Linked DNA regions of Homo sapiens. The main gene of each other region encodes a partner of the protein of the gene in region 2 in a complex. Each region holds a gene or a part of one and is shown on either strand. Other genes may lie near its edges. The genes, in order: EIF2S1, EIF2B2 and EIF2B3. A codon is read from its position in the direction of its gene.

Evidence for each region.
Region 1: the proteins of EIF2B2 (region 2) and EIF2S1 are in contact, whole or in part, in a cryo-EM structure (PDB 6K71), measured with the Homo sapiens proteins. Residues at the interface, in NP_055054.1 of Homo sapiens: Glu92, Arg95, Gln128, Ser131, Asn132, Glu135, Ala136, Glu139, Val142, Glu143, Glu145, Glu149, Asn150; in NP_004085.1 of Homo sapiens: Leu51 (codon at 3,377), Ser52 (codon at 3,380), Arg53 (codon at 3,383), Arg54 (codon at 3,386), Ile56 (codon at 3,392), Asn60 (codon at 3,404), Lys61 (codon at 3,407), Leu62 (codon at 3,410), Arg64 (codon at 3,416), Arg67 (codon at 3,425), Lys87, Ser91.
Region 3: EIF2B2 (region 2) and EIF2B3 share a complex: the UniProt entries of both Homo sapiens proteins name them as parts of the translation initiation factor 2B (eIF2B) complex.

The regions. Positions count from the first base shown.
Region 1 is NC_000014.9:67,361,542-67,372,408, forward strand, and holds part of EIF2S1 (eukaryotic translation initiation factor 2 subunit 1), read left to right. Parts: intron 1-3,225; 5' UTR 3,226-3,226; coding exon 3,227-3,467; intron 3,468-10,867. UniProt on the Homo sapiens protein: Member of the eIF2 complex that functions in the early steps of protein synthesis by forming a ternary complex with GTP and initiator tRNA. This complex binds to a 40S ribosomal subunit, followed by mRNA binding to form a 43S pre-initiation complex (43S PIC).
Region 2 is NC_000014.9:75,003,982-75,012,866, forward strand, and holds the end of EIF2B2 (translation initiation factor eIF2B subunit beta), read left to right. Parts: intron 1-755; coding exon 756-919; intron 920-1,884; coding exon 1,885-1,980; intron 1,981-2,595; coding exon 2,596-2,733; intron 2,734-3,740; coding exon 3,741-3,807; intron 3,808-5,049; coding exon 5,050-5,207; 3' UTR 5,208-8,385; downstream 8,386-8,885. UniProt on the Homo sapiens protein: Acts as a component of the translation initiation factor 2B (eIF2B) complex, which catalyzes the exchange of GDP for GTP on eukaryotic initiation factor 2 (eIF2) gamma subunit.
Region 3 is NC_000001.11:44,981,428-44,993,086, forward strand, and holds the start of EIF2B3 (translation initiation factor eIF2B subunit gamma), read right to left. Parts: upstream 5,169-11,659; 5' UTR 5,066-5,168; intron 1-5,065. UniProt on the Homo sapiens protein: Acts as a component of the translation initiation factor 2B (eIF2B) complex, which catalyzes the exchange of GDP for GTP on the eukaryotic initiation factor 2 (eIF2) complex gamma subunit.

The DNA.
Region 1 (10,867 bases), 7.6 Mb from region 2:
GAGTTGTCCCCATCACATAATATATTTTGGAAAGGAATGTGAACTTCTATATCCATTATAGCAGTTTGACCATGCACTGTTTTGAGAAAGAAGTCCTACCTACCATTTGTCATGCAAAATAACTGACTATGCAGGGTATTTGAAATTAGCCTGGAGTTTGGTTGATATATTTTGAAAGGTGGCTGATACTTTTTACATCAGAACACATAAGAGTATTATAGCATGTTGTGATATTGAGGTTCTGTGGGTTAAAGACATTCTGGATTTGATGTCGGATTACTTGAGTTTAGCTCCTACGCTAGTACTTATTAAGCATTTGTTCTTAAGGAAGTATTATAATTTAGTATTTCTGTTCCACCTTTCCTGTTCATTGCTTCACTGTGCCCTTTCATAGTACTTTGTATTGTAATTATTTGCTTGCTAGTTTGTTTCCCACTCTATACTTAATTACTTAGGTAAGAGTCTTTTTTTTTTTTCTTTTTTCTTTTTTCTTTTTTTTTTTGAGACAGAGTCTCTGTTGCCCAGGCTGGAGTGTAGTGGCACGATCTCAGCTCACTGTAGCCTCTGCCCCTGGGTTCAAGGGATTCTCCTGCCTCAGCCACTATAGTAGTGGGATTACAGGTGCCTGCCACCACACCCAGCTAATTTTGGTATTTTTAGTAGAAATGGGGTTTCACCATGTTGACCAGGCTGGCCTCGAACTCCTGGTTTCAAGTGATCCACCCGCCTCGGCCTCCCAAAGTGCTGGGATTACAGGTGTGAGCCACTGCGCCTGGCCTGGTAAGAGTCTTTCTTGTTGTATCATTAGTGCTTAGTACATAGTAGCTACTGAAAAAAAAATTAACAAATTATTATATTACAAAATGGAAATACCTTCTTTTTCTTTCAATATTTTATGTTTGACTAGCACATAATGGTTTTCAAAATGTTTTTACGTATACATGTGATACCCTCAGTAAACCTGTGATGTACATGGCACAGATGAGAAACTACAGTTCAAAGGATGTTATCTTTCCCAAGCAGCCACTTCTAGTAAGTAGCAGAGCAAGGACTGGAACACAAGGCTAGAGTTGTTCCCCGAGTTTACTATGTTAATTGCCTGATTTGACACTTCTTGAGGACCAAATAAAATAAGAATGCTGTGAAAAAGATAAAGAGGTGAAGTCACCTAGTGTGACTTCGATATTGCGGAATGATTTTTTTAAGTTAAAAAAAAAATTTAAGTTATTAGCATTTCATTAGGCAATATGTTCAAAAATTGTCAACCAATATGCAGGTTTTTGTGGTATGGATTCTTTTTGTACTTAACTACTATCTATCTTTACTATGAATAACATACCATCAACAGTATTCCTTTACTTACCCTTTATGTTGCAAAGAGACTTGTGCCTCCTGAAGAAATAGTATTCATAGTCATATCCCTTCAGGATTCTCTTACATGATTGCCCATGTTTTTTAACCATCAAATTAAGCCTTGCTTCCCCTAAAAGCATCACCTTTACTGTTTGGAGAAGCTTGGTAAGTAAATGTGGTTTTCACTGGTCAAATGTCTTGCAACTGTTCCATACATTTCTGTAACATAGTTTATTTTTATGCCCAATTTGAAACTTTTTAGCTCTCAAATTTGAGAGCTTTACATACACATATTCAACAACAGTTTCCCCACCCCCACCCTCGAAAAGCCCTGTTTAAAAACGAAACAAACAGTCAGCTGTTTCTTGGTGGGTAAGGCCATTGAATGTCTACTTCTCTTTATTTGCTAAATCCCTATTTTGTAGGGATTTTGTATTCCCTACAAAGAAATACATCTCTGCTACTGTCATTAATATGCTGCTCTTTGTTGTCAAACAGATGAGTACTAATAGTTTGCACTTATTGGTGTTATGTACTCTGGCACTGAATATATATTAATGTTGCTTTTTAAGTAAAATGTTTCTAATTATAATATATTTATGAATAGTTTTGAGAGAATATAGTCTTACTGATAAGAGGACAGACTCTGGATCCAGACTTCATGGATTCAAATCCTGACTCATCACCTGTTAGCAGTATGTGAAAGAACAAGTAACTTAACCTGTGCTTCAGTTTTTTAATCTATAAAATGGGGAGAACTAGGGAGAAAGTTGTACCACAAGGAGATAGGCAATGGCCAGATCATATAGGATTCTGTAGGTAGTGGAAAGATACATAAGTCAGTGGGAAGCCACTGAGAAGATATAGGCAGGTGCCAATTAATAAGTTATTATATGAATTTTCACAAGGTTTTCTTAGGCCTTTAAGTTCTGTTACTACCTACGTTTTGAGCAGTGACAACAGTGAAGGTTAACAGAAAAACATGAAAATCATCAGCCATGATTAGTTTGAGAGCTTCCTTTTTTAAATATGCTTCTACCCAGGCTATGATTTCAGGCTTGTGGATCATAAAAGGAGTAGTGCTGAAAGTAGGTTGGGTGGATCAAAGGGAATAATTGTAAATATCTTTAATGCTTGGAGGTTAAGAGAAACTTGAACTTTGTAGTAATGGAGATTAAAGCTATTCTCAAGATTAGGTATACCTATTCAATAAAAGAAAGGAATATTTGGGAGTATTGGGGATAAGAGAAGCTAGACATTGTGAATTCAAGGAAAAAGAATTATGAGAGGAGGATGCATTTTAGTTTATTTTGTGATTAAAATTTTTTTAGTTTTTGTTGTTTTGACATGTGACACTGTAATTTTGGCTATAATAAATGACAGAATGTATCATTTGGTATATTGGTTAGGGTTTAGGTAGAAAATTTTTTCCTTTATATAGTGAGTGGTAGCGTATACAATGTTTGCTCACTTCGGCAAAGAGTAGCTTTAGTTTTCTGATTAGTTATAATAGTGATGCTTCCCATCATTTGATATGCCTTAAAGTAGTATTTTACTCTTGAGGTATTCCTTTAATCCTTAGGTCTTGGAGTACTTTATAGATGGTCATTATTTTTTATGATTCCTCTGAAACTAAAGGCAGAGAATCACCCAAGCATTACAAAAATGTTGAGCAAAATAAAAATTAAAGCTTGGTTCCTGAACATTATCTGTTTTCTGGTACCACTTAAGAAGTTTCAAAGGATGAGAAGACTAAGACTAATAACTATTTTTTTCTTCATCTTTTCTTTCAGTGGCAGGATGTGGAAATTGATTTTTTTTTTATTTTCACCTTAACTGAATACTTACTTAATTCTTTTGTTTAAATTGCAGAATGCCGGGTCTAAGTTGTAGATTTTATCAACACAAATTTCCTGAGGTGGAAGATGTAGTGATGGTGAATGTCAGATCCATTGCTGAAATGGGGGCTTATGTCAGCTTGCTGGAATACAACAACATTGAAGGCATGATTCTTCTTAGTGAATTATCCAGAAGGCGTATCCGTTCTATCAACAAACTCATCCGAATTGGCAGGAATGAGTGTGTGGTTGTCATTAGGGTGGACAAAGAAAAAGGTAAGTGAGAAAAATATCTGTAATATAAATTTCAGATTTAAAATGGTTTATTTAAAAATACATTTTTTGTAAATTGCAAGCTGCAGCTTAAAAAAAAAAGCTCCTTTTATACTTAAACCTTTTACATACAAAGTTGTTAGAAAAGGATGCCAATTAGCTATCTAAGCAAGATCTCTTAATAGTAGTTTAATTAGTACATCCTAGGATTTTATGGATCAGATAACTTGAATTTTATTTCTAGTGTTTATCAGGATCTTGATAATTGACTCATGGTAACCAAACTTAGAGACAGGTAAGTCAGAGTACTAGTTCATTTACATTGGTAGGCCTGAATATGTTGGATGCCTTTTTCTTGATTTAAAGCTAAAATAGTAATGAGATCACTGGGTAAGCATGAAAATGGGGCAAATGGATTTTAGGGATCTTTTATATAAGCTTTGAAAAAGCAATATACTATGCGTGTATATACACACCTGAAATCCAACATTGTATATCTTGCTGGTAATTAGAATGTTTGCATCTACCAGATCTCGTGGTATCTTTCAGACAGTTTTGGATGAGCATTCATTTTTTACTTATTGGATGCCTTTTCTGGGCCCCATGTAAATCATCACCTTTGTGAATACTCTTTTTTTAAACATGGTGTACAATACCATTACGTAGGTTTTAGTTTCAGCCATCTTACTATAATTTGTTAGGTGTTAGTTTTAGGTCATTAGTTACCATCATGTCCGAAAGGCTTCATATCAGTCACCTTGATTCAACTTACCCTTCTGAATCTCCTCAGCCGTCTGGTTTACTGATACTTTCTCACTTCTGCAAGTGATTAATTTTATACATACTGACATTTTAATTTTTTTTATTATAGCCTTAGATGATACATAGATTTTGAGGATGTCTTATGCCTTAGGTAGTGACTGCTACTTAGCACATGGATTGTTTTAAATGTTTTGCTATGACTTAGCTATAGCCCCGCCCAAAATTATTAAACTACTTTGAGACTATTTGTTAAACTTAGGTAAGTCTTCACATCACTGTCCTAGTAGTACCTAAAGTAGTGTCTAATCTTGTACTTTTTTTTTTTTTTTTTAAGAATTGGGGTCTTGCTCTGTCACCCAGGCTGCAGTGTAGTGGTATGATCATAGGTCGCTGCAGCCTTGAACTCCTGTGTTCAAGTGTTCCTCAAGCAGTCCTCCCAAGTAGCTGGAACTACAGGCATGTGCCACCCTGCCCAGCTAACTTTCTTTGTAGAGATGGGGTCTTGCTGTGTTGCCCAGGCTAGTCTTGAACTGGGCTCAAGCGATTCTCCTGCCTTGGCCTCACAAAGTACTGGGATTACAGGTGTGAGCCACTGTGCTCAGCCTTCTTTTTCTATTGTATAAAATATACACAAAAGGAGGAATCAAATATGTTTTTAGTTGCAATCAGAAAAAATATGGAATGGCATACTTGCTTACGTACAGTAGATACATGTAAAGATATTTCCATAGCATTTGTTTGTATGGCATTAACTAAAACCAGGAAATGACCAAAATGGGGACTGGTTAAATAAATCAGTACAAATGCGTGCAATGCAATTTTATGCAGAATGAGATCTGAATATTTTGATATGGAAGATCTCCAGGATAGGATGAGAAAAAGCAAAGTGCAAAAGAGCCTGTAGAGAGGATTCATTTTGATACTAGAGAATTATGTCCTCCTAGACAAGCCTTTCAACGTAAATGCCATAAACCCTGAACAAGTATGAAAAATAACTACCTAAAGACAATGAGAAGCAGCCAAAAGCAGGCCAAAATTGAAAATTTGAAGGTGAGTCGACACTTATAAGAAAGGGTATGTTTTCTGTTTTACACCTTTTTTTTTGACCTAAGTACATGCTGAAGACAGCTTCAAGCCAGGCAGCTAAGGTTCTAGCAGAAAATTTATGGTCTTATTGGCTTTAGAACTGGAGGCGAGAGTTGTAGACAACCATAGTAGATGGAAACTGGTGGTGATAGTGGTGAGGGTTAGAGAAAGGAGGCGGCAGGCACAAAGGGAGATCCCCTAAGTCTATATAAATTCTTCCCAAATCTCTGGTTTGTCCCTGAACTACTGAAACACAGGGTGGACTCCAGGTAGCCTAATAGGGGAAAAATCTGAACAGATTTCAGTTGCTTACCATCTGGGGAGACAGAGCTTATAGTTTTGAGTTCAGATTCTGACTGCCTGCTAAAACAAAAAATCTATATTCTCTTTTTTTGGGGGATGGAGTCTCACTCTGTCGCCAGGCTGGAGTGCAGTGGCACGATCTTGGCTCACTGCAACCTCCGACTCCCTGGTTCAAGCAATTCTCCTGTCTCAGCCTCCAGAGTAGCTGGGATTACAGGCACACACCACCATGCCCAGCTAATTTTTGTATTTTTGGTAGAGACAGGGTTTCACCATGTTGGCCAGAATGGTCTTGATCTCCTGACCTTGTGATCCACCCGCCTTGGCCTCCCAAAGTGCTGGGATTACAGGCGTGAGCCACCACGCCCCACCCCATCCAGGTCACTTTGTGCTAAGTGTTCTACACTTGGTCAGCATTCTCATAAATACGGTGCATGGAATGGAACACGGTGGGCACGTTGCGTGAACTCACAAATTCAAGACCAGCTGGGGCAACATGGCAAAACCTCATCTCTACAAAAAATACAAAAATTAGCTGGGCGTGGTGGTGCACCCTGTAGTCCCAGCTTCTCGGGCGGCTGAGGTAGGGGGATGGTTTGAGCCCAGGAGGCGGAGGCTGCAGTGAGCCAAGATTGCACCGCTGCACTCCAACCTGGGTGATAGAACCAGACCTTGTCTCAAAAAAAAAAAAGAGAGAGGTGAAGGAAGTTCTTTAAGCTGAAGAGATGTGATGACCTGACATGGAAAATATATAGGTAAATGTAAAAGACTATTTTTGCCCTTCTTAGTTTCTTTAAAAATATATTTAACTATTTGTCTCATTTGTGCCTGTGGGATTGTAATCTATAGAGGTGACTGAGTGATGACACAGTCCAATGCCCTTGAAAGAAAACTTTTACTACTTATATTGCCTGAGAGAAGGGGGCTTGATGTGCCATGCAGGGCCACATGGGGAAGCACCAGTTTTAGTCAGGAGTCACAAGGAACTAGGGGAAAAAGTAGGTCAGAGCTTTTGTTGGAGTTTCTGCAGGAAAAGCAAGGCAGAGCAGCGTAAACGGCTTGCAGTTGGCTAGTTTGAATGCTTTTGGCGGGCCTTGGGGCATAAAGACTGCCCTGCTTGTCTAATACCTGGCCCTTGACTTACAGCAGGGAGAATTTTGGCTTGGTGTATGAGTTTATGGGCTCCAGATTGGCTGCTCTGCATAAGAAAGGCATGCTACCAAGCAAGCCCTTTGCTGACTCCTCCCCACCTGACGGAGGGGCAGTCTCTCCACAAATGTCAGAGCCTCAAGAATACAGAAAATAAGAAAATATTTAGTTACTACTAATAATATTAATAATAAAATATATAGTTAATACAGTTGGCTCTGTGATTAATGGATGCCAAGTAGTTAAATATAGAAGCTAAGAAAACAGAATACTGTTTAAAGCAGGCTTAGTACACTTGACAACTTAATCACAAAGGCCAGGAGGTGTGGGGTAAATAGATCTATATGATTCTTAACGATTCTTACATTTTATGTGCAGTAGTAAAATTAAAAGGTTAAGGATGTATATTGTAAATTCTAGAACAACCATTAAATAAGCCAGTTGCAGTGGTCTGTGCTTGTAGTCACAGCTGTTCGGGAGGCTGAGGTGGGAGAGTCACTTGAGGTCAGTAGTTCAAGACCAGCCTGGGCAACATAGTGAAACTATCTCTAGAAATAAGTAAGTAAAATACAAAATACACTATTGTAAAAGCCAAAGATATATTAAAATGGAATTCTAGAAAACATTAACCTAAAAGAAAACTCAAAAGAAAAAAACAAAAACCAGAAAGAACAAATAGAAAACAAATACCTAAAATGTAGGTATTCAATTATTCAGTTATTGATACAACTGAATTCATTTATATCAGTAATTAAATGTAAATCAAGTAAATATTCCAGCTAAAAGGCAGAGATTGTTAGGATGAATTAAAAAGCAAGACTCGACGATAATCCTGTCTACAAGAGATATACTTGGTTGAAAATAAATGGATATAAAAAGATATGCTATGCAGACAATACCTTAAGGAGACAGTGTCTATTAATATTAGATAAAGTAGATTTAAAGACATAGTATTTTCAGATTTAAACAGGGACATTTTGTAATGATAAAGGGTCAATTTGTTAGAAGGAAAACAACAGTCATCACTGTGTATGTGCCTAATAATAGAGTTCAAAATATAAAGCAGAAATTGAATTCAAGAGAGAAATAGACAAATCTATAATCATAGTTGGAAGTTTGAACAAGCTCTGAACAATTGGAGAAACAATTAGATCAATGAAGACCTTGACTTGTTTGATACCTAGAACACTGCACCCAGAAAAGGCAAAATACACATTATTTTCAAGTGTGCATGACATTCACCAAGATAGACAATAAGGTGAGCTATAATATTAATACAACTCTAAATAAATTTCTAAGGGTTGGAATACAAATATGTTCTCTGATCACACTGGAAGTAATTTTGAAATCAGTGTCATATCTTGGGAGGGAAGAGTTTGCAGTATTAAATAAGCCCTTCCAAATAATTCATATATTAAAGCCTTAAGGGAAAATTTATAGCTTTAATTACTTATATTAGAAAAGAATAAAGATCTAAAACAGTTATCTAGGCTTTTGTTTTAGAAGATAAAAGAAAGGAAAGGTAAACTCAAAGTTGCTGAGACCAGCTCTGTTGGGGAGACCCTAACCCAGAGGCGCTAGAGGAATTAAAGACACACACACACAAATATAGGGGTGTGAAGTGGGAAATCAGGGGTCTCACAGCCTTCAGAGCTGAGAGCCCCGAACAGAGATTTACCCACATATTTATTAACAGCAAACCAGTCATTAGCATTGTTTCTATAGATACTAAATTAACTAAAAGTATCCCTTATGGGAAATGAAGGGATGGGCCGAATTAATTGCAGCAGGAACACGTCCTTAAGACACAGATCACTCATGCTTTTGTTTGTGGCTTAAGAATGCCTTTAAGCAGTTTTCTGCCCTGGGCGGGCCAGGTGTTCCTTGCCCTCATTCCTGTAAACCCACAACCTTCCAGCTTGGGCGTTAGGACCATTATGGACATGTCGCAGTGCTGCAGAGATTTTGTTTATGGCCAGTCTTGGGGCCAGTTTATGGCTAGATTTTAGGGGGCTTTCTCCCAACACAAAGTAAGTAGAAGAAAAGAAATAATAAGGATAAGATAATCGGTGAAAATAGAGTACCAGAAAATCAGAGAACAGTATCAAAGTTAAAAACTTGTTTTTTGTTTTTTTAAAAAAGAGCAAAATTGATAAACCCCTAGTTAGGCTGATGAAGAAAAGGAAATAACACAAATTACCAATCTGGAATGAGAATGGGGCTATCACTGCAGATGCTACAGACATTAAAAGGCTAATAAGGGAATATCATTACCAATTTTATGCCAATCATCTCAACAAATCAGGTGAAATTAGTGAATTCCTTGCAAAATTTTACTTACTGAAACTGACCAATATAAAATAGAAATTTTGAGTGTCCTATATGTTAGAGAAATTGAATTTATTGTAAAAAATCTTTTCATCAAGAAAATTCGGTCCTGACCAGCACAGTGGTTCATGTCTGTAATTCCAGCACTTTGGGAGGTTGAGGTGGGCAGATTGCTTGAGCCCAGGAGTTCAAGACCAGCCTGGAAACATGACGAAACCTCATCTCTACAGAAAGTAGAAAAATTACCCAGGCATGGTGTTGTGCACCTCTAGTCAGTTCCAGCTACTAGAGAAGCTGAGGTTGGAGGATTGCTTGAGGCCAGGAGAACAAGTCTGCAGTAAGCCGAGGTCATGCCACTACACTCCAGCCTGGGTGACTAAGACCCTGTCTCAAAAAAAAGGAAAACTCTAGGCCAGATGGTTAAATTGATGAGTTGTATCAGACATTTAAGGCAGAAATAAGATGAGTCATAATAAAATTTCAGAAAGTTAAGGAGGTAGGCCAGGCACGGTGGCTCACACTTATAATTCCAGCAATTTCGGATGCTGAGACAGGAGGATCGCTTGAGGTCAGGATTTCAAGACCAGCCTGGCAATATAGGGAGACCCCATCTCTATAAAAATTTTAAAAAATTAGCTGGGTGTGGTGGTGTGTACCTGTAAAGTAGTTCCAGCTACTTGGGAGGCTGAGGTGGGAGGACGGCTTGAGCCCAGGAGTTTGAGGCTGTAGTGAGCTGTGATCACACTGCTGTATTACAGCCTGAGCAACAGAGCAAGACTGTCTCCCACCAAAAAAAAAAAAGTTAAGGAGGCGGGAACACTTTCGAAATACAGTCATGTGGTGCTTAATGACAAAGATACATTCTGAAAAATGTCTTATCATGCAAATTTCATAGAGTGTGCTGCTTACATAGACCTTATAGCCTATACACACATAGGTTGTTTAGTATACTCTATTATTCCTAGGCTACAAACCTGTACAGCATGTTACTATACTGATTAGGTAGTTGTAACACAATGGTAAATATTTGTGTACCTAAACACAGAAAAGATACAGTAAAAATACAGTATTATAATCTTAACAGCACTGCTGCTATATATGCAATCTATTGTTTACTGAAATGTTATGCAGTGCATGACTAATTTTATGAGGCCATCATAACCCTGATAAGAAAACCCAACAAAGACATGTTTTTGTAAAAAAGCAAATTACTGACCAAATATGTGATTAGCATAGATAAAACAATTAATATGTTTTTCAAATCCAACAATGTATAAAAAGGATAATAAAGCATGACCAAGTGGAGTGTATGGAATGCCAGTTTGGTTTAACAGTCATAACTTTATGTTGGCTGGGCATGGTGGCTGAGGCCTGTAATCTCAGCACTTTGGGAGGCCTAGGTGGGGGGATCACTTGAGCCCAGGAGTTCGAGACCAGCCTGGGCAACATAGCAGGACCTCACCTCTTTTGTTATCTCTCACTTCTTTTTATTTAAAAAAAAAATTAAAAAATTTATGTGTGCTTTTATATGATCAGTTAATTAACAAAAGTACAAAGGCAGCTGATCAAAGAAAAAATTATCTTTTTAACAAATGGTGCTGGGACAACTGGATGTCCATATGCAAAAAAGAACCTCAATTCAAACACCTCACCTTATACAAAAGTTAGCTTAAAATGAATCATAGATGTAAACTTCTAAGTACCTCTAGAAGAAAACAGGAATCTTTCTGACCTTGGATTAGGCAAAGATTTCTTAGATAGCACACTAAAAGCGT
Region 2 (8,885 bases):
CTCCCTAGAGAGCCAAGGTCGATAGACCTCCTTCACTATCTGAATTTTTATACACACGTACACGTATACCATTTCTATCCCCCTTGTCATTGCGGTCCAAGTGACTTGCAGATATTCATTGTAATCAGAGGATGAAGAAGCTGCTTCCAAATTGCTCCCCCATTTTTTCTTCTCTGGCCAGTCTCTCTCATGTAGAAGTGTTGTGGCCACCTTTTGGAGGAAGACTTCTTTTAGGCCGAAGCTCTCTTTACCCTATTCTCAGCACTTTAGGATTTCCCAGATTGCCATTCCTTGGCTGAATCTACTGTCTTCAAAATCAGTTGTAAGGAGCTCTGTAGTGACAGAGGTGGTTCATAGGTAGGGGTACTTCTGGAAGAGGGCAGGCAGAAAATCCCAGAGGAGTGGGGCTTTTAAGAAATTGTGACATAGCTGGGCATGGTGGCTCACACCTGTAATCCCACAACTTTGGGAGGCCAAGGTGAGTGGATTGCTTGAGACCAGGAGTTCAAAACCAGCCTGGGCAACATAGTGGGACCCTGTCTCTATTAAAAAAAAAGAAATTGTGACATTTCACTTTAAGCACATTAACCCTGTGGTACCAGGGTCTGCTAGGTGGGCAGTGCATGTGAAGGGCAGACATCTTTTTCCGTATACGCGTAATGTGTGTTTGTGATATAGCAATTTCATATATATATATATATATATATATTTTTTTTTTTTTTTTTTTTTTTTTTTTTGCAAAACCGTTCTTACAGAAGGGACAATGGAGAACATTGCAGCCCAGGCTCTGGAGCACATTCACTCCAATGAGGTGATCATGACCATTGGCTTCTCCCGAACAGTAGAGGCCTTCCTCAAAGAGGCTGCCCGAAAGAGGAAATTCCATGTCATTGTAGCAGAGTGTGCTCCTTTCTGCCAGGTAAGGAGACTGCTGGAGTTGCTACTAAGAAAAATGAAAAATGAAGAAGAAATAAACGAGAGATGGGTAGGGCCATTCCAACCTTGAATTGATAAGCAAGACTTTGAGACACTGAGAAGATCAAGTAAAACATTAAGTGAATTTTCAAGGTGTTCGTCCTGTGAACATTCATAAATAGTGGTTTAAGAAAGTTGGGGCCGGGAGCGATGGCTCATGCCTGTAATCCCAGCACTTTGGGAGGCTGGGCGGGTGGATTACCTGAGGTCAGGAGTTCGAGAGCAGCCTGGCCAACATGACAAAACCCCGTCTCCACTAAAAATACAAAAATTAGCTGGGCGTGGTGGCACATGCCTGTAATCCCAGCTACTCTGGAGGGTGAGGCAGGAGAATTGCTTGAACCTGGAAGGCAGAGGTTGCAATGAGCCAAGATAGCGCCACTGCACTCCAGCCTGGACGACAGAGCAAGACTCTGTCTCAAAAAAAAAAAAAAAGATGGCGAGCTGCTGGGTTCAAGGAAAGATAACTTGATTCTTTTAGGAATCAAAGCAGGGTAAATTACCTTGGGGATGACTAATGCTTGGTCTGACCTCACTTGATCCTAAGTAAATAATAGGTCTCAAAAAGGAAATATGTAAGGATGCAGGTTGTTTTAAAATAATGAGCCAGGAGCTATCTTGTCAGCAATCGTGATTATATTATACATGCATGTTGTATTTCCAGTTTTATGGCTGCTCTGGTGCTGCTGTGGAGCATTAGACATTTATTAGCTTCCCCTGGGCTTCCCTACAGCTTACCAGAGCTATGAGAGTCTGAAAAATCAGTTGTCCGAAAAATGAGTTATCTATTGGAAATTATGTGCTGGATATGCCCATATCACACAATTCCCCAGATCCAGTTACATTTGAGAGCACTTTTCACTATTTCTCACTCTTTCTCTTAGAATCAGCCTTTCCCTCCCATTGCAGGGTCATGAAATGGCTGTGAATTTGTCCAAAGCAGGTATTGAGACAACTGTCATGACTGATGCTGCCATTTTTGCCGTTATGTCAAGAGTCAACAAGGTGGGTATATCTGGAGTTATGTTGAATTCATGAAGATTATGTTTCTAAAATATTGATTTTTATCTCCTCCTGTAATATCCACGGTGAGAGAATAAAGTTTCTAGCACCTTTCAAAGTACATACTTAGGCCTTTTTAATCTGTTAACTGAATTTCTTTTCCCTTTTTTCTGCATCATTGTTCCTCTCTTGGAGTAGCCTCTAAATTTGGTTGAAGCATTGAAAAGAATGAAGTATTAAATAGAACTAAGGCAAGAGTGTCAGTTTCTAGGGATTGGCTACAGGGCTCCTGCCTTATGCTCAAAGAGCTTGGCAGTTGTGGATAGTGAATGAAAAAGATTCCTGGCTTCTCAGAAGGTATGGCATCTCAATTTCCAGAAAATATGGGACTGAGAGCAGTAGGTTTTGCAGTTTCTTGTCCCATTTTACATTCATTCTTTCCTTGGAAACCTACTTTTAAGCTAGAACTTGTATTGAGCCAGGGATCCCTTCACCTCTACCAGTCTGTGACCCCTCACGATACCAATTCTGAGGTCTAAGCATTTAGCTTTTTGTGGCCAGTGGCCCTTTTAGGGCTCCACCCCCAGGATGGCTCACATTTTTTGTCTTGTCCCAAAGGTGATCATTGGCACGAAGACCATCCTGGCCAATGGGGCCCTGAGAGCTGTGACAGGAACTCACACTCTGGCACTGGCAGCAAAACACCATTCCACCCCACTCATCGTCTGTGCACCTATGTTCAAACTTTCTCCACAGGTAAGTGTGTCTGTCTCTAGCTAGAAGCCAGCAGAAAAGAAGGAAGCCAAAGGGTAGGCTTGAACTCTGGGACTTCAACCACCTCACTCCAGGGCCTCCATTTATCTGCATTTACTCAATGGATTACACCCAGTGGAGGCTGGAAAGAACCACAGAAGTCTTGATTCAGTAAAACAGTTGAGAGTTCTCAGCTGTCAACTTTAGGAAGTCAAGATTGTAAGGACAATATGTAGTTGGGAAAGGTCCTTTGCTTACGATTGCCACCACTCCCTGTCGCCTGACCATTTCTGAAAATGCCAAGCAGGTTGAAAGTAGGATCATAGAATCAGTTTTGTTATTGTTGCAGGGCCTGTCCTTTGTAACCTGAATACAAGCAAGGACTAAGTGAAGAGCCATTTCATCAGTGATAGAAGCTATTTGCTTTGAAAACATCAACCTATTTATAGGTCTCTATTTTTTAAATTGAGGTGAAATTCACATAACATACAATTAACCATTTTAAAGTATACAATTTAGTGATATCTAGTACATTCACAGCATTGTACAACCACCACTCTCTAGTTTCAAAACTTTTTCTCCACTGTAGAAAAACACCCTGTACCCATTAAGTAATCTCTCCCTATTTGTCCTTCTCCCCATCTCCTCCAATCTGCTCCTGTCTCTATGGATTTGCCCATTTTGTATAAAAGGAATCATATAATATGTGACATGTTGTGCCTGACTTTTTTCACTTAGCATGATGTTTTCAAAGTTCATCCATGTTGTAATGTCAGAATTTCCTTTCGAGGCTGAATAATATTCCATTATATGAACATACCACAATTTATTAATCCATTCATCTGTTTATGGGCATTTGGGTTGGTTCCAGCTTTTGGCTTTTGTGAATAATGCTGCTATAAGCATCTGTGTATAAGTTTTCTGTGTGGACATATGTTTTCATCTCTAGGGTACATACCTAGGAGTGGAATTGCTGGGTCTCTAGTTTTTATAAATTTTTTCCTTTTTAGTTCCCCAATGAAGAAGACTCATTTCATAAGTTTGTGGCTCCTGAAGAAGTCCTGCCATTCACAGAAGGTACAGAAGCTGTGTGTGCATGCGTGCATGTGTTGTGTGTATTCGGGGTTTGTGTGTGCATGTGTTTTGGTCTTTTTGTTGTTTTGTTGGTCAGTAGAACTGAATGCTGTCAAGTTGTGTTTTTTATCATACTTCTTGTGGGGACTGTTTTCTTTAGAAGCTCAAAGTGCTTGAGGACCTGACCAAGTCCATGTTAATTTGTTCTGAGACAAATATATTTTAGATTTGTTGGGGCTATTGTGGGTTGGATCATTTAGCATTGTCTGGGTTTGGCTTTGCATGCTGTTTGAGATATAGACAACAACCAGTTGGGAAAATGTACCTGTTTTCCTGCTATAAGGAGTCATTTTGGTGAATTGACTCCCAAAGGAAGCAGGTTGTGAAATGTTCCTCCTTAGAAAACTCACCTGTAGCCTGGATAGTCTCATGTCTTGGGGTTCTTTTCTCTGGCTTCTTCTGAAGGCAGCAGCTCAGCTCATTACGCGTGCAGCCTCATCAGCAAGGGTGGCCTTACACACCATCTGAGAGCAACGCATAGTAGTTGGTTGGGGTCCTAGTTCCTCTTGGAAGTTGATTGACTTCATCCCTTTATTTAAATAAACATTCAATCTTCAAGAAATAGTTATTGAGCACCTACAATGTATCCAGCACTCTTCTAGGCACTGAAGATAAAACAATGAATGAAAAAGATAAGGCCCTGTTCCCACACATTCTATTGTGGAAGACAGATGAGAAAGTATCAGGTCATGGGATGCCTGAGGACAAGCAAGGCTGATGTGGTAGAAAGTGGCTAGGGGCCTGAGATTGAGGAAGGGTCTTAATGAGATGACATTTCAGCTGAGTCCTGAATGAACAGAGTCCACCATATGAAGATCATAGTTTTCTATGAGCTGGTGCAGGGGCTTAGCCAGTTAGAAAAGGATGGCCATACATGGCTAGACAGTAATGAGCAAGGGGGAGAGTGGTCCAAATTGTAATTCATGTGGTGTGTCAGGGAGGGCCCAGATCTTAAACTTCAATCCTGAGTTTGAATTTTATTCTGAGGGCTGTGCAGAGGCATGGGAGAGTTGTAAGCAGGGATTGTCATGATCTGAAGTCATCTCTTCTGGTTTGCATTTTTCCATAGCTTCCCGTCCTTGGGGAGCTAATATGCCTGCATTCTCGAGCCTGGAATCTATATGCTACTTAATTATGAGAGAGGGAGCCTCAGTTTTACCTTTAGCATGTGTGCTTGCCTTTCAGGGGACATTCTGGAGAAGGTCAGCGTGCATTGCCCTGTGTTTGACTACGTTCCCCCAGAGCTCATTACCCTCTTTATCTCCAACATTGGTGGGAATGCACCTTCCTACATCTACCGCCTGATGAGTGAACTCTACCATCCTGATGATCATGTTTTATGACCGACCACACGTGTCCTAAGCAGATTGCTTAGGCAGATACAGAATGAAGAGGAGACTTGAGTGTTGCTGCTGAAGCACATCCTTGCAATGTGGGAGTGCACAGGAGTCCACCTAAAAAAAAAATCCTTGATACTGTTGCCTGCCTTTTTAGTCACCCCGTAACAAGGGCACACATCCAGGACTGTGTCTTGCCTTTCAGATCTTAACAGAGCAGCAGGGCTTAACTTGTTGATTTTGGAGCCTCTTAGTGACCTGGTTGCGTCTGTGTCAGGAACTTAAACTTTCTGGTTCAGTAGTGTGTTAAACATAACACTGAATACCTTACTGGGATACAGATTTTTGCTCAGAAATGGCTATGACACTTTTTCTAGGCTCTACCAATAAAAGCCACTTGAAGGTTCCATAGTTGGTTTATTTATTGTCCTACTCTGACAGAACTGCTTGAAACAGCAGCAGCAGAGCCTTTTTTGTGTTTGCATAGAGGGCTGTAGTTAGCGGGAAAAGTGTACAACATGGTAGTACTGGCCAGATGCAGTGGCTCCCACTTGTAATCCTGGACTTTGGGAGGCTGAGGTGGGAGGCTTGTTTGAGGCTTGTTTGAGGCCTGGAGTTTGAGATTAGCCTGGCAACATAGCAAGATCCTGTCTCTACAAAAAAATATTTTAAAAAATTAGCCAGACATGGTGGCACATGCCTGTGGCCTCGCTATGCTGGAGGCTGAGGTGGGAGGATCACTTGAGCCCATGAGTTCAAGGCTTCAGTGAGCTATCATTGTACCACTGCACTCCTGCCTGGATGATAGAGCAAGACTCTGTCTCTAAAAAAATAACAAGTACAAATGAAAGTATAGTTTCCTTTACAATTCACTGCTCCTGGCCCCAAAGTTTGTTCATAGTCTAAAACAGTAGTTCCAAAACCTCGCTGATCATCAGAATCACCTGAGAGTGATTCCGATCACTCACTCACACAGTCTTGGGTTTCATCTCAGTCCTACTGCATCTGATCTCAGGGTTACTACCTGGGAATCTGTTTAAAGCTTCCCAGAAAAGGATAGTCTCATGTAGTGTTTATAGGACTATAAATTGGTACAGCCTTTTAGAGGGCAATTTGGAAGCTGTATTTCTAGAATTATTTGTACAAGCAAAAAGATTTATACAGAGTGTTCAGTGTAGTAGTTGTAATGTCATAGCCTAAGTGTCCAGCAATAGGAGAAAGGTTAAGTATTGACAGTTACACCGTGGAACATTATACATGGCAATAGAAGTTTCAAAAGGATGGCTGGAGGGGCAGTGTCTGGATTGAAGGCATTTGGGCTGGTTCACTGCATTTAATGTGAATTTGTTACCAATATTTAAAAATCTGGAGATTGCACATTTCAAAAATTCAGATTTCTTGCTTTTCTTGAAAACTCAAATTTGGCAACTCTGGGCCAACATTTCCAAATGGCAGTAGTTAGTTTGTGGTTGGGTAACATCTGATGCCATTGGATGGAACATCTCCAGTTTTCTGCAGTTCCTACTGGATCCATTTAACTCATTTATGTTATCTGCCTAACCCCTGTAGGCATTTGAGTTGTGATCCTGGTGTTAAAAGAATGGGACAGATTTGCAAGGAAGTCCATTTGATACTCTGTTAGTTAAAAACAAGCTGGGGAAAAAAAACACAACAAGCTGCAGAGCAATATGCATAATACGGACTCATTTCCATAAAACAACACTGGCTGGGCGCAATGGCTCACGCCTATAATCCCAGCACTTTGGGAGGCTGAGGAGGGCAGATCACTTGAGGTCAGGAGTTTGAGACCAGCCTGGTCAAAATGGCGAAACTAAAATACTATAATAAAATTTTTAGTTCCACTAAAAATACAAAAATTAGCCAGGTGTGGTTGTGGGTACCTGTAGTCCCAGCTACTCGGGAGGCTGAACTTGGGAAGTAGAGGTTGCAGTGAGCAGTGCCATTGGGCCACTGCACTTTAGCCTGGGCAACAGTGGGTGAGACTCTGTCTCACAAAAACAAAACAAAATTATATGTACACGCATAGGGAAACAGTATAGAAGTATAATACCAAGCACAGCAAGCAGAGGGACATCCTCTAATTTTGTTGACATGTTTATGCTTACATATTGTTTCCGGTTTTTAACCTAAAAAGTCTCCCAGGTGATCCAGATTTTCTGCCATGTTTAGGAACTAGTGGTCCAAAGCAGGGCCTCTTGTGCAGTGTCTGTGTGGGTGGAGGGAGCACTAAGAATCTGCATGTTTAACAAATAGCCTGTGGGCTTTGAACAGGTGATTTGAAACCACATTTTGGTTAACACTGGGCAGAGGTAGGTTCTGAGGGAAAGGTCTCTATTCTTTGATATCTCTTTGAGAGCGATCTTTGCCTTAGGTCTTCCAGAGAGGGGAAAAAAGTAAGACCTCAGAAAGTCGGCATTTTACACTGACCTAAAAGCTGTATGACTCAGAAGAGCCTGACTCACTCAGGCTCAGTCTTTCTATTATTTCTTAAAGCATCTAAGACCCCACGCTTTCTCAGTGAAGTGGCTTGTAGCTACCAATTACGAGCAATTGTCTCCTCCAAAGGCACCAATTCTAACAGCAATTCACTTGGGTACAATTGTGTGGTTTGGAGTAAGAGCAGCAGTGAGGCAAGGAACTTAAATCTGTTCCTGGCTCCAAAAATGCTTTATGATACTTGTCCTTTGTCCATCTTAGTCTCTGTGTCTAAAATTAGCACCAACATCCTTCCCAGGCATGACTGAGTTGGATGAAGGTTATAAGGGTAGAAGCTCTCTTTCTGGTCAGCTCTTACAGTGCCTAGAACAGAACTGCAGGAATGCATACTTTTTAGAATCTTTATGACCCCAATTAAGTAAACCCTATTAAGGCTCATCTTCTTATTTCCCCTCTCTCCGTTTCCCTATTTGAGGAGGGGTAAGTATCAGAAAGAGAGAACCTGAACTGAACAGGAGGAAACAGAAGTTCCACATCAACTCACTACCTGTCAGCCTTGGTATCAGGGGTGCCCACCTCCCACCCCTGCCTTGCTGGCGGAACCGAGAAACTCGGAAAAAAACAAACAAAAAAACAACTGTTGTAGCTTGGAGAGAATTAATAGAACTAGGATTCCATGGATGTGAAAGTCTTCCTCAATATGCTAAATAAACCAAGTTAGATAACAGTGCAGTTTGTAAAGACACTTTTTTCCCACGGTTTCTATCTTCCAGTTTGGGCAGAGGGCAGGAAAGGCACAATTCTTGGAACTTGAATAAGGAACAGAAATTCCTAATTTAGCCTCAGAAGAGACATCTCTGAAAAATACTCTACCAGGAAAAACTGAAGTGTAAAATGATACCTCAAAGAAATCAATGCTGGAACCCATAGGATCATATGTTTCATGGATGTGCTTCAAAACTATTTCTCAAAGCAATCTGTTGCATCAGTCTTTGGGCTAATGAAGGCTGCCAGTCACAGTTCCATCATGGAATGACTGGCATACTCTGTAATGATCTATAATACTACAACTACATCAGAACTGCTCTGCCATACAGATAGTACCAGATGGTGATGTGATTATTGTAAAGGCCTCACACTATCCACCTGTCCTTGCAAAAACTCCCTTAGCAGACATGCACCTAGTTGACATGAAAGAACAATTTTGAAATGTGATTTGGAAGTGTT
Region 3 (11,659 bases), on a different chromosome or scaffold from region 2:
CACAATTAAGTGGAGAAGACAAATTCAGTAAATCACAATATATGTCATTAGTGCCACAGCAGAAAAATATCCAAGATACAGTGGGCATACAATAAAAGGAACACCTAGTTTTCATTGAAAACACAGAGAAGTTTTTATAGAAAGTGATGCTTGAGCTGACTCTGAAGAAGTAAGAGTTTACCAAGTGGACTTCTGATGTGTGAATTTTTATTCTTTGAAAATATTAGGCTGGGTGAGGTGGCTCACATCTGTAATCCCAGCACTTTGGGAGGCTGAGGTGTGTGGATCACATGAGCTCAGGAGTTCGAGACCAGCCTGGGCAACATGGCGAGACCCCATCTCTACCAAAAATACAAAAAATTAGCCAGGGGTGGTGGCTTGTGCCTATGGTTCCAGCTACTTGGGAAGCTGAAGTGGGAGGATCATTTGAGCCTGGGAGGCAGGTGTTGCAGTGAGCCGAGATTGAGATTGGACCACTGCACTCCAACCTGTGTGACAGAGTGAGATCCTGTCTCAAAAAAAAAAAAAAAAAAAGAGAGAAAAAAGAAAATATTAAAAGATGCCTGACTAGAATTAACAGCAGAAACACAAGCATGTTAGGCTTCTGAAAAGTATGAAATGACTTAAGACTCCTCCAATAATTCAGCCATCGGCTCATCTTATTCCTCCAATTTTTAAAGATATCACTATAAACACAAACGTAGGCTTGTATCTGAACCTAGATTTACAGAACACAATTATAAAAACAAACCAAACTGTTAATTCCTTTTTTCAAACTCAAGGTAATAAACAAACCTATTTGACTTTGAAAAGAATCTCTTTACAGAAACTACCACAGAACAGAGGCACAGTAGAAGGTCATAAATCTTTATTTATGTATTTATTTTTGGAGATGGAATTTCACTCTTGTTGCCAGGCTGGAGTGCAATGCCGTGATCTCGGCTCACTGCAACCTCCACCTCCCAAGTTCAAGCGATTCTCCTGCCTCAGCCTCCCGAGTAGCTGGGATCACAGGCATGGGCCACCATGCCTGGCTAATTTTGTATTTTTAGTAGAGATGGGGTTTCACCATGTTGGCCAGGCTGGTCCCAAACTCCTGACCTCAGGTGATCCACCGGAGTCGGCCTCCCAAAGTGCTGGGATTACAGGTGTGAGCCACGTGCCCATCCTATTTATTTATTGTTTATTTAGAGACAGAGTCTTGCTCCATTGCCCAGTCTGGAAGTGCAGTGGTAAGATCATGGCTCACTGCAGCCTCAACCTCCTGCACTAAAGCAATCCTCCTGCCCCAACCTCTGGAGCAGCTGGGACTACAGGTGGGTACCACCATGCCTGGCTTTTTTTTTTTTTTTGAGACGGAGTTTCTCTCTTGTTGCCCAGGCTGAAGTGCAGTGGCACGATCTCAGCTCACCACAACCTCTGCCTCCCAGGTTCAAGTGATTCTCCTGCCTCAGCCTCCCAAAGAGCTGGGATTATAGGCATGCACCACCACGCCCAGCTGCCCAGCTAATTTTGTATTTTTAGTAGAGACAGGGTTTCTCCACATTGGTCAGGCTGGTCTCGAACTCCCAACCTCAGGTGATCTGCCCACCTTGGCCTCCCAAAGTGCTGGGATTACAGGTATGAGCCACTGCACCTGGCCGCCTGGCTAATTCTTTTAATTAATTTTTTATAGAGATGGGGTTTCACTATGCTGCCCAGGCTGGTCTCAAACTCCTGGCCTCAGGCCTCCTGCCTGGGCCTCCCAAAGTGCTGAGATTAGAGGCATGAGCCACTGCACCTGACCGATCTTTACTGATTTAAACTGAAAGTACTTTCTCTTACAATGATGTAATTTTAAGAACAAATGTGTTAAAATGTAACGTTCAGAAGAAACAATCTATTCAACATCAAATTGCCAAATAATGTTGCAACTTTACTATAATTATTATTACTCCTGGGCCCAGCACATCAACATCTAAAGTGCAGCACTTAACACCTACTATACCCAAGGCACAAAGTGAAGGCTCCTGCATAACATTCACAATGTAAAGATATGGTCATGTAGATTCTAGCAAGCATTGCCTCAAAGTGTAATTTAATTTCATTTTGGTATTATATAACATCCACCACATCAAATGTTATTATGAAAAGAGCACTGGACCCTTAAGAGTCAAAAGATGAGCTGGACGTGGTGGCTCACGCCTGTAATCCCAGCACTTTGGGAGGCCCAGGCGGGCGGATCACCTGAGGTCAGGAGTTCAAGAGCAGCCTGGCCAACTTGGTGAAACTCTGTCTCTACTAAAAAAAAATTTTTTTTTTTGAAACAGAGTTCTTGTTCCCCAGGTTGAGTGCAATGGCATGATCTTGGCTCACTGCAACCTCTGCCTCCCAGGTTCAAGCGATTCTCCTGCCTCAGCCTCCCAAGTTGCTGGGATTACAGGCATCCGCCACCATACTTGGCTAATTCTTTGGATTTTTAGTAGAGACAGGGTTTCACCATGTTGGCCAGGCTGGTCTTGAACTCCTAACCTTAGGTGATCCACCTGCCTTGGCCTCCTAAAGTGCTGGGATTTCAGGCATGAGCCACTGCGCCCGGCCTCTACCAAAAACATTTTTAAAAGTAGCCAGGCATGGTGTCAGGCACCCGTAATCCCAGCTACTCAGGTGGCTGAGGCAGGAGAATCACAGGAACCCGGGAGGCAGCAGCTGCAGTGAGCTGAGAGCACACCACTCGCACTTCAGCCTGGGCGACAGAGTGAGACTCCGTCTCAAAAAAAATAAAATAAAATAAAAAAGAGCCAAAAGAGCGCCAGGCACAGTGGCTCATGCTCCCAGCACTTTGGGAGGCCAAGATGAGAGGATCACTTGAGCCTAGGAATTCTAGAACAGCCTGGGCAACATGGTGAGACCCCATCTCTATAAAAAATTAGCCAGGTATGGTGGCGCATGCCTGTAGTCCCAGATACTCGGGAGGCTGAGGTGGGAGAATCACCTGAGCCTGGGAGGTTAAGGCTGCACACCACTGCACTCCAGCCTGGGCAACAGAGTGAGACCCTGTCCCAAAAAAAAAAAGTCAAAAGATGAGTTTGAGTCATGATTCTGACACTCATAGGTGTGATCAGGGGCCTGACATTTAAAACTCTCAGTGTCCTCAGCTTCTAGAAGGAAGCCTGGTGGTTAGGTTCACAGACCATAGAGCTAGAATGCCTAGGTTTGAATTCTAGCTCTACTATTTATTATTAGCTGTGTGAACTAGGGCAAACTACGTAAATTTTCTATGCCTCAATTTTTGCATTTTATGATGGGGATAATTATAGTTTCACTTCACAGAGTTGTTGTTAAGATTAAATTTGTTATTCTACGTAAAGCAGACAAAATAATGTCCATCTTTTTTTTTTTTTTTTTTTTGAGACGGAGTCTCGCTCTGTCGCCCAGGCCGGACTGCGGACTGCAGTGGCGCAATCTCGGCTCACTGCAAGCTCCGCTTCCCGGGTTCACGCCATTCTCCTGCCTCAGCCTCCCGAGTAGCTGGGACTACAGGCACCCGCCACCGCGCCCGGCTAATTTTTTGTATTTTTAGTAGAGACGGGGTTTCACCTTGTTAGCCAGGATGGTCTCGATCTCCTGACCTCATGATCCACCCGCCTCGGCCTCCCAAAGTGCTGGGATTACAGGCGTGAGCCACCGCGCCCGGCCAATAATGTCCATCTTATGAGAAGCACTATATTTGTATTTGCTTTACTAGACAGAGACTAGATTATGGAAAACCTTCGTACTAATTGAGCCATGCTGCTTCATAATTCTGGTCTCTGCACTGCTACTGTTGCTTCCTAGTCTGCCTTTCTCTTGTGTCTAGTAATCACCTATTAAACTTTGAAGACAGCTCAAGAATCCTCTTGCCTACAAAGCCATTCCTAACCGTTCCCACCCCTCCAGAAGTGACTCCTTTTCCCGAAGTGCTTCCATTCTGCCATGTGCAGATTCTCTTAGCCTTTACGGGTTTCATTGCACGTATGTGTTTAAATGTCTACTTAAGTGTAACATTAATGTCTCTTAAATGTCTACATAAGAGTGTAAGAGTGACTTTCTTGGACTGTGTGTGCATCATCACTGTATTCCCAGTCAGATGCCAGAAATCAAAGTGGAATGAGGACCTGTGAACTTCACAACTGTATAAGAGTCAAACTCAAACATGTGCATAAGGGCATTAGAACCCAGGTCACTAGGAACTGAGGTTCCAGCTCTCAAGGAGGCCCTGGGTGAAGAAAGGCAACCTAGGAAGCATGAATAGTAATCATGAACATAACTAATCATGCTACCAGGCAGACTGTCAAATGCTCATGTCACTGCCACGACTATGGCTGACGGGAATCATGGCAACGAGTCTCGCTGCCTCCCAAGCTTTGGAGAGGGTGTTCACCGCATCTCAGACTTGCCTGCATCATAGCACTCATGCCTTTTCCAGTTGTAAATAGATAAGAAAACTGTATCAGAATTGGTCTGTCATTCCACGTGTGCTGCCTGAAGGCAGAGACCTCACTGCTCCTCCCTATATTTCACTGCCCTGCATCCAAACAACTAAAGGCAGGCTGAACAAATGAATGAAGGGCTGAGGCTGAAAGAGTGCAGGCACAGTGCTAAAGGCGTCTGGTACCGGTCTGGTGCTCGCTCACTCGCTGTGACTTTAAGCAGAACCCTCCCCGAAACTTCGTTTCTTTCTTTTCTTTTCTTTTTTTTTTTTTTTTTGAAACGGAGAGTCTCACTATGTTGCCCAGGCTGGAGTGCAGTGGCGCGAATTAGGCTCACTGCAACCTCCACCTCCTGGGTTCAAACGATTCTCCTGCCTCAGACTCTCGAGTAGCTGAGATTAGAAACTTAGTTCCTCCATCTGTTGCATAAGGTGGTTGGCTCGGATTCTCATCCCCAACCTCCCTTCTACTTCGGACACAGCTACACCGGGTCGAGCAGGGAGTCGAGCTGACAACTTCGGGGCTCAGCACCCTCTCCTACCCCTTCGGGTCCACCTCGGCCCAGTTCGACATGCCCGCCTCCCTCAGATGAGTGGCCCCACCGCACTGCTCACCCGGGTCAGCCAGCTTGTGTGCGGCCTGGCAGGGCAGAAGTCACAGCTATAACTCAGCTCCCGGCACGCCGCAACCGCTCCCAGCGATCTCCACGCCGCCTCTGACTGACAGCCCAATGGCGCAGGCGCGCGATGGCCGAGAAACTCGATGGAACGCGCAGAGCAGACCCATGGAGAAGAGAAGACCGCCGAGCGATGGATGACGGAGGGGAAGCACACTCAGCGGAGAGGAGGGAAGGCGGGCCGGAGGGGGCGGGGCCACCGAGGAGCATTCGACACGTGTGTCCCTCTGTCCATTAACACATTACCAACGCCTTTTGAGTATTCCTCCCAGTGCAGGGTGCCGGGAACCCAGACGGAACAACTCAGCCTCTTTCCTCAGGGAGTAAGTCTAAGACCTGGCTTCGAGTACATTCGGTGAAAGAAAGCTCATTGGGAGCCGCAATTTTGGCTAGCTAGTGAAAAAAATCACCGAATGCCCCTGCAGGGGTTGCCAGGACTTCCTATTTGTTTTTGTTGTTGTTGTTGTTGTTGTTTGTTTTTTGTTTTTTTTGAGACGGAGTCTCGCTCTGCGTCGCCCAGGCTGGAGTGCAGTGGCGCGATCTCGGCTCACTGCAAGCTCGGCCTCCCGGGTTCACGCCATTTTCCTCCCTCAGCCTCCCGAGGAGCTGGGACTACAGGCGCCTGCCACCATGCCCGGCTAATTTTTTTGTATTTTTAGTAGAGACGGGGGTTTCACTGTGTTAGCCAGGATGGTCTCGATCTCCTGACCTCGTGATCCGCCCGCCTCGGCCTCCCAAAGTGCTGGGATTACAGGCGTGAGCCACCGCGCCCGGCCCGGGACTTCCTATTTGTAACAGGGCCACTCACGTTAACTTTAGCCATCAAAACTGGGGGCGGCTGGGCATGGTGGCTCATGCCTGTAATCTCCGCAATTTGGGAAGCCGAGGTGGGAGGATTGCTTGAAACCGGGCGTTCAAGACCAGCCTGTGCGAGAGAGCCTCCAGTCTCTACAAAAGTAAAAATTAGCTGGGCATGGTAGTGTGTGCCTGTAGTCCCAGCTGCTCAGGAGGCTGAAACGGGAGGATCGCTTGAGCCCAGGAGTTCGAGGCTGCAGTGAGCTATGATCGGGCCACTGCACTCCTCCTGCCTAGACGACAGAGTGAGACCCTGTTTTTTTTTTTTAATTTAGTTTTTATTTCATAATCATAAACTTAACTCAGCAATCCAGTTAGGCATGGAAAGGAACAAGGAAAACATGGAACCCAAAGGGAACTGCAGCAAGAGCACAAAGATAAGATACTGCGAGCAGGCCGGGCGTGGTGGCTCACGTCTGTAATCCTAGCACTTTGGGAGGCCGAGGCAGGCAGATTGCCTGAGCTCAGGAGTTCAAGATCAGCCTGGGCAACATGGTGAAACCCCGTCTCTACTAAAATACAAAAAAAAAAAAAAAAAGAAAGAAAGAAAGAAAGAAAAAATTAGCCAGGCATGGCGGCGTGCGCCTGTAGTCCCAGCTACTCGGGAGGCTGAGGAAAGAGAATTGCTTGAACCCGGGAAGTGGAGGTTGCAGTGAGCCGAGATCGTGCCACTGCACTTCAGCCTGGGAGAGGGCGACAGGGTGAGACAGCGTCTCAAAAAAAAAAAAAAAAAAAAATACTGCAAGCAAATGGGGTGAAGGGGTGCTCTTCTGAGCTACAAAAGGAATGGTCTGGTGGTTAAGATAAAACAAAAGCCAAACTTGTTAGAGTTGTCCACAGTCAGCAATGGTGATCTTCTTGCTGGTCTTGCCATTCTCGGACCCAAAGTGCCCCATGGCCTCCACAATATTCATGCCTTCTTTCACCTTGCCAAAGACCACAGGATTGCCATCCAGCCACTCAGTCTTGGCAGTGCAGATGAAACACTGGGAACCATTTGTGTTGGGTCCAGCATTTGCCATGGACAAGATGCCAGGATGTGTATGCTTTAGGACGAAGCTCTCGTCATCAAATTTCTCCCCGCAGGTGTACTTGCCACCAGTGCCATTATGGCATGTGAAGTCACCACCCTGACACATAAACCCTGGAATAATTCTGTGAAAGCAGGAACCTTTATAACCAAATCCTTTCTCTACATTGCTCAGAGCACGAAAGTTTTCTGCTGCCTTTGGAACCTTGTCTGCAAACGGCTCGAAGGACACGCGGCCCAAGGGCTTGCCGTCGACAGCGATGTCGAACACGGTGGGGTTAACCATGGCTGATCGTACAGAGCTCCTGGCGTCGGTGGCTGCATTTGCAAAGCCGAGACCCTGCTTTTAACAAAACAATAATAGGCCAGGTGCGGTGGCTCACGCTTGTAATCCCAGAAGTTTAGGAAGTGAGGCGGATGGATCCCTTGGGCCCAGGAGTTCGAGACTAGCCTGGGCAACGTAGTGAAACACCCTCTCTACTAAAAATACAAAAATTAGTCAGGTGTGGTGCCGCGCTGTGGGGTTCCAGCTACTTGGAAGGCTGAGGCAGGAGGATCGCTGGAGCCCAAGAGGCAGAGGTGGCAGTGAGCCAATATGGTATCACTGCACTTCAGCCTGGGTAACAAAGAGACAGGATCTCTAAGTAAATAAAATAAATATTAAAAAATGACGAATAGATAATAAAATAATTGTTGTTCTAAGCTCTACGGTTTGGAGTGGTTTATCAAGTTGCACTAGATAACAGGACCAATGGCCATTCTCTTTTTCCCATGCATTCCTGCAATTTCCTAATCTTTTGAAAGCTTCCTTTTTTTTCGATTAATTAATTTTTTTTTTTTTTTGAGACAGTCTCACTCTGTCACCAGGCTGGAGTTCAGTGGCACAATCTTGGCTCACTGCAACCTCTGCCTCCTGGGTTCAAGTGATTCCTGCGTCAGCCTCCCGAGTAGCTGGGACTACAGGCATGCGCCACCACGCCTGGCTAATTTTTGTATTTTTAGTAGACAAGGGGTTTCATCAGATAGGCCAGGATGGTCTTGAACTCCTGACCTCGTGATCTGTTCGCCTCGACCTCCCAAAGTGCTGGGACACAGCCGTGAGCCACCGTGCCCAGCCTGATTCATCTCTTAAATCTTGAGTTGCTTTAGCTTCCTGCCAGTTAAAAGGTAGAGCATGATTTCTGTAATAAAAATAAAGGAGCTTGACTTCATTCAACAATATTTATTCATTTATTTTTAGAAATGAGGTCAGCTTATGCTGCCCAGGCTGGACTCAAACTCCTGGGCTCAACGATCGTCTTGCCTCAGCTTCCCAAGTAGCTAGGACTACAGGTATGTGCCATGGAGGACTGGCTTCAACAATATCTTGAGTGCCTAATATGTGCCAAGCAGTGTCTTAGATGCTTGGTGTTGCAGATACAGCAGTTAATGATTAGGACTTGTCATTTTTTCCAGAAGGAGGTCTGCTTAGACCCTGAAAAAAAAAGGGGGGGACTCATATCCTAAAACCAGCCTATCTTTGCCTTGCCATGAACTGACTGATCTGGCCACAGGAGGCCTGAAGTCTGACTACCCCTCTATAGAAACACAGAGATATTCTCTCTTTGGTATTACCTCAACCAAGACTTGGAAATTACAGCATGGGTTTGAGGTAAGAACTAATTATAAGTAAGAAGAGCAGTCAGCCCCATATCTGCCATCCATTTCAAATCCTTATGTTTAAACTAGCAAATGTTTTTCAACGAACTAGAGGGTTTTCTCTTCTATTGTGGAAAGTAGTTGAGAGATTGCTTCAGTTTAAACTCACTTTAAATTATTCCCTGAGGGCAACAATTCTCAAACTTTTTCATCTCTAGACTCTTCATACTTAAAAATTACTGAGGACCCCAGAAAGCTTTTGTTTATATGGATTATATTTATCAATATTTACCATATCGAAAAAAAATTATTTTTTTGACACGGAGTTTTGCTCTTGTTGCCCAGGCTGGAGTGCAATGGCACGATCTCAGCTCACTGCAACCTCTGCCTCCCGGGTTCAAGCGATTCTCCTGCCTCAGCCTCCCAAGTAGCTGGAATTTACAGGCATGCGCCACCACACCCAGCTGATTTTGTATTTATAGTAGAGACGGGGTTTCTCCATGTTGGTCAGGCTAGTCTCAAACTCCTGACCTCAGGTGATCCGCCCGCCTTGACCTCCCAAAGTGCTGGGATTACAGGCATGAGCCATTGTGCCTGGCCAACTACATTTTCAAAACAAAAAGTTTAGTGAGATGAATGCCATTGTTTCACCTTTTTGAATAGTCTCTTTAGGGTCTGGCTTAATAGAAAACAGCTTGATTTTTCCATTATTGTAATATATTATTTTGGTTTAATTATATCATAAAAATGTGACTTCACATAGATACATAGTTGGTAAGAGATAGAGCTTTTAATAGCCTTTTCAGATAATTATAGGTATTCTTTGACACTATACCAAAATTCAATAAGTGGTAGTTTGTTAAAGGTTTGTTGCAATGTAGAATCGGAAATTATATCAATGAACATTTTGTACCTTGTTACAGTACTTGCACTTTGAATGGACATTTTACCCATGCATGACCTTGCAACTTGGTATACAAATAATATGTAAAATATTCGTTCACAGAGTTATGCAGATCTTCCTAACATTGACTCATTATACAATATTTTAAAATCACATTTGTTAATATCACTAACAATTTCATCAGAAAAATTCTTAAATATTAGAAAGCTGGGAAGCTGATGATGACAGATACAAGTTTTATAAAATTCTAATTTTTGGCCGGGCACAGTGGCTCACGCCTGTAATCCAAGCATTCTGGGAGGCCGAGGTGGGCAGATCATGAGGTCAGGAGATTGAGACCATCCTGGCTAACACGGTGAAACCCTGTCTCTACTAAAAATACAAAAAAATTACCCCGGCATGGTGGCAGGTGCCTGTAGTCCCAGCTACTCAGGAGGCTGAGGCAGGAGAATGGCGTGAACCCGGGAGGCAGAGCTTGCAGTGAGCTGAGATGGCGCCACTGCACTCCAGCCTGGGCTACAGAGTGAGACTCCGTCTCAGAAAAACAAAAACAAAAACAAAAAACCCCCAAAATTTTAATTTTCTCTTCAAAGCTCATTGGCAGCAAATACTATTAGTGGTTTCCCTTGAAGTAACTGGCTCACTTTGTTTATACATCGGCAGGCATAGTTGGTCAGTTCTTTTTTTTTTTTAAATGAAAAACCATAATATGCCCTTCATTTGCTTTTAGCTATTTCATAAACATCACAGATAAACTGGACACAGTTTGCAATGCAACTTAGAAAAATTTCTTTTTCCATAACATAAACATGTCAATCTTTCCCTTTAGTGCCTTCTTCCACTCCTCCTCCACTGTGCTGAAGAGATATTGAGTTCTTCCAGATTTTTGCTTAGCTGGGTGGTTTCCAAACTCAATGGACTCTCTAGGTAGGTAATTCCTGCACAGGGCTTTCCTGTCACTGGATTTATGATTTTTCCAACTTTGAAAACAATCTCGGCCAGTTCATGTTTCACATGCTTTGTTCGCGGAACAGGTAAAGCTCTGAGAAGCACAGTATCACCAACTGTGCACTGCTGAAGGGCATCGTGAGCAAAGTAGGTTTTCCGCTTATTGTAATACTTTAATAAATAGGGATCCAGAACAAGCCTGGTCACTCTCACTTTAGCAGTCTTTTGCATTTTTGTCCCAATCACCTTCCCCACGATCCACTTGGCATGGGTGGATGAATGAACTACGGACATTATGTGGCTTTGGTCACCTCCGCCACGACTGTGCAGCCACCTCCAGTTGTTCTTTCGATTCAATATAGTGCTCCATGAAAAAGCAGTAGTTCAACTCGCAGCTCAAACTATCACAAAACTGTTTCTCTTGGAGACAACCATCATACTTCTTTTGTATGCACAGAAGGGTTAAATGTGTACTTCCCATCTCATCATACAGAATATTAAAAAGACACATACTCAGTAAACTAGTATATTTGGTAGCAAAAAAAAAAAAAATGGGCTGGGCACAGTAGCTCACGCCTGTAATCCCAGCACTTTGGGAGGCCGAGGCAGGTGGATCACGAGGTCAGGAGTTCAAGACCAGCCTGGCCAACATAGTGAAACCCTGTCTCTACTAAAAATACAAAAATTAGCCGGGCACAGTGGCGTGTGCCTGTATTCCCAGCTACTTGGGAGGCTGAGGCAGGAGAATCACTTGAACCTGGGAGGTGGAGGTTTCAGTGAGCCAAGATCATGCCACTGCACTCCAGCTTGGGCAACAGAATGAGACTTCATCTCAAAAAAAAAAAAAAAAAAAAAAAAGACATGTACTCAGGCCAAGGTTTAATAAAATTAATATAGTTTACTGCTTAATCAAAGACCTTCTTAAGTGTAACTGACTTTGTTTAATTTTTTTTCTTTCTTTTTTTTTTTTTTTTGAGATGGAGTCTCACTCTGTCGCCCAGGCTGGATGGAGTGCAGTGGCGCGATCTTGGCTCACTGCAGGCTCTGCCTCCCAGGTTCACGCCATTCTCCCACCTCAGCCTCCCAAGTAGCTGGGACTACAGGTGCCCACCACCACACCCGGCTAATTTTGTTTTTGTATTTTTAGTAGAGATGGG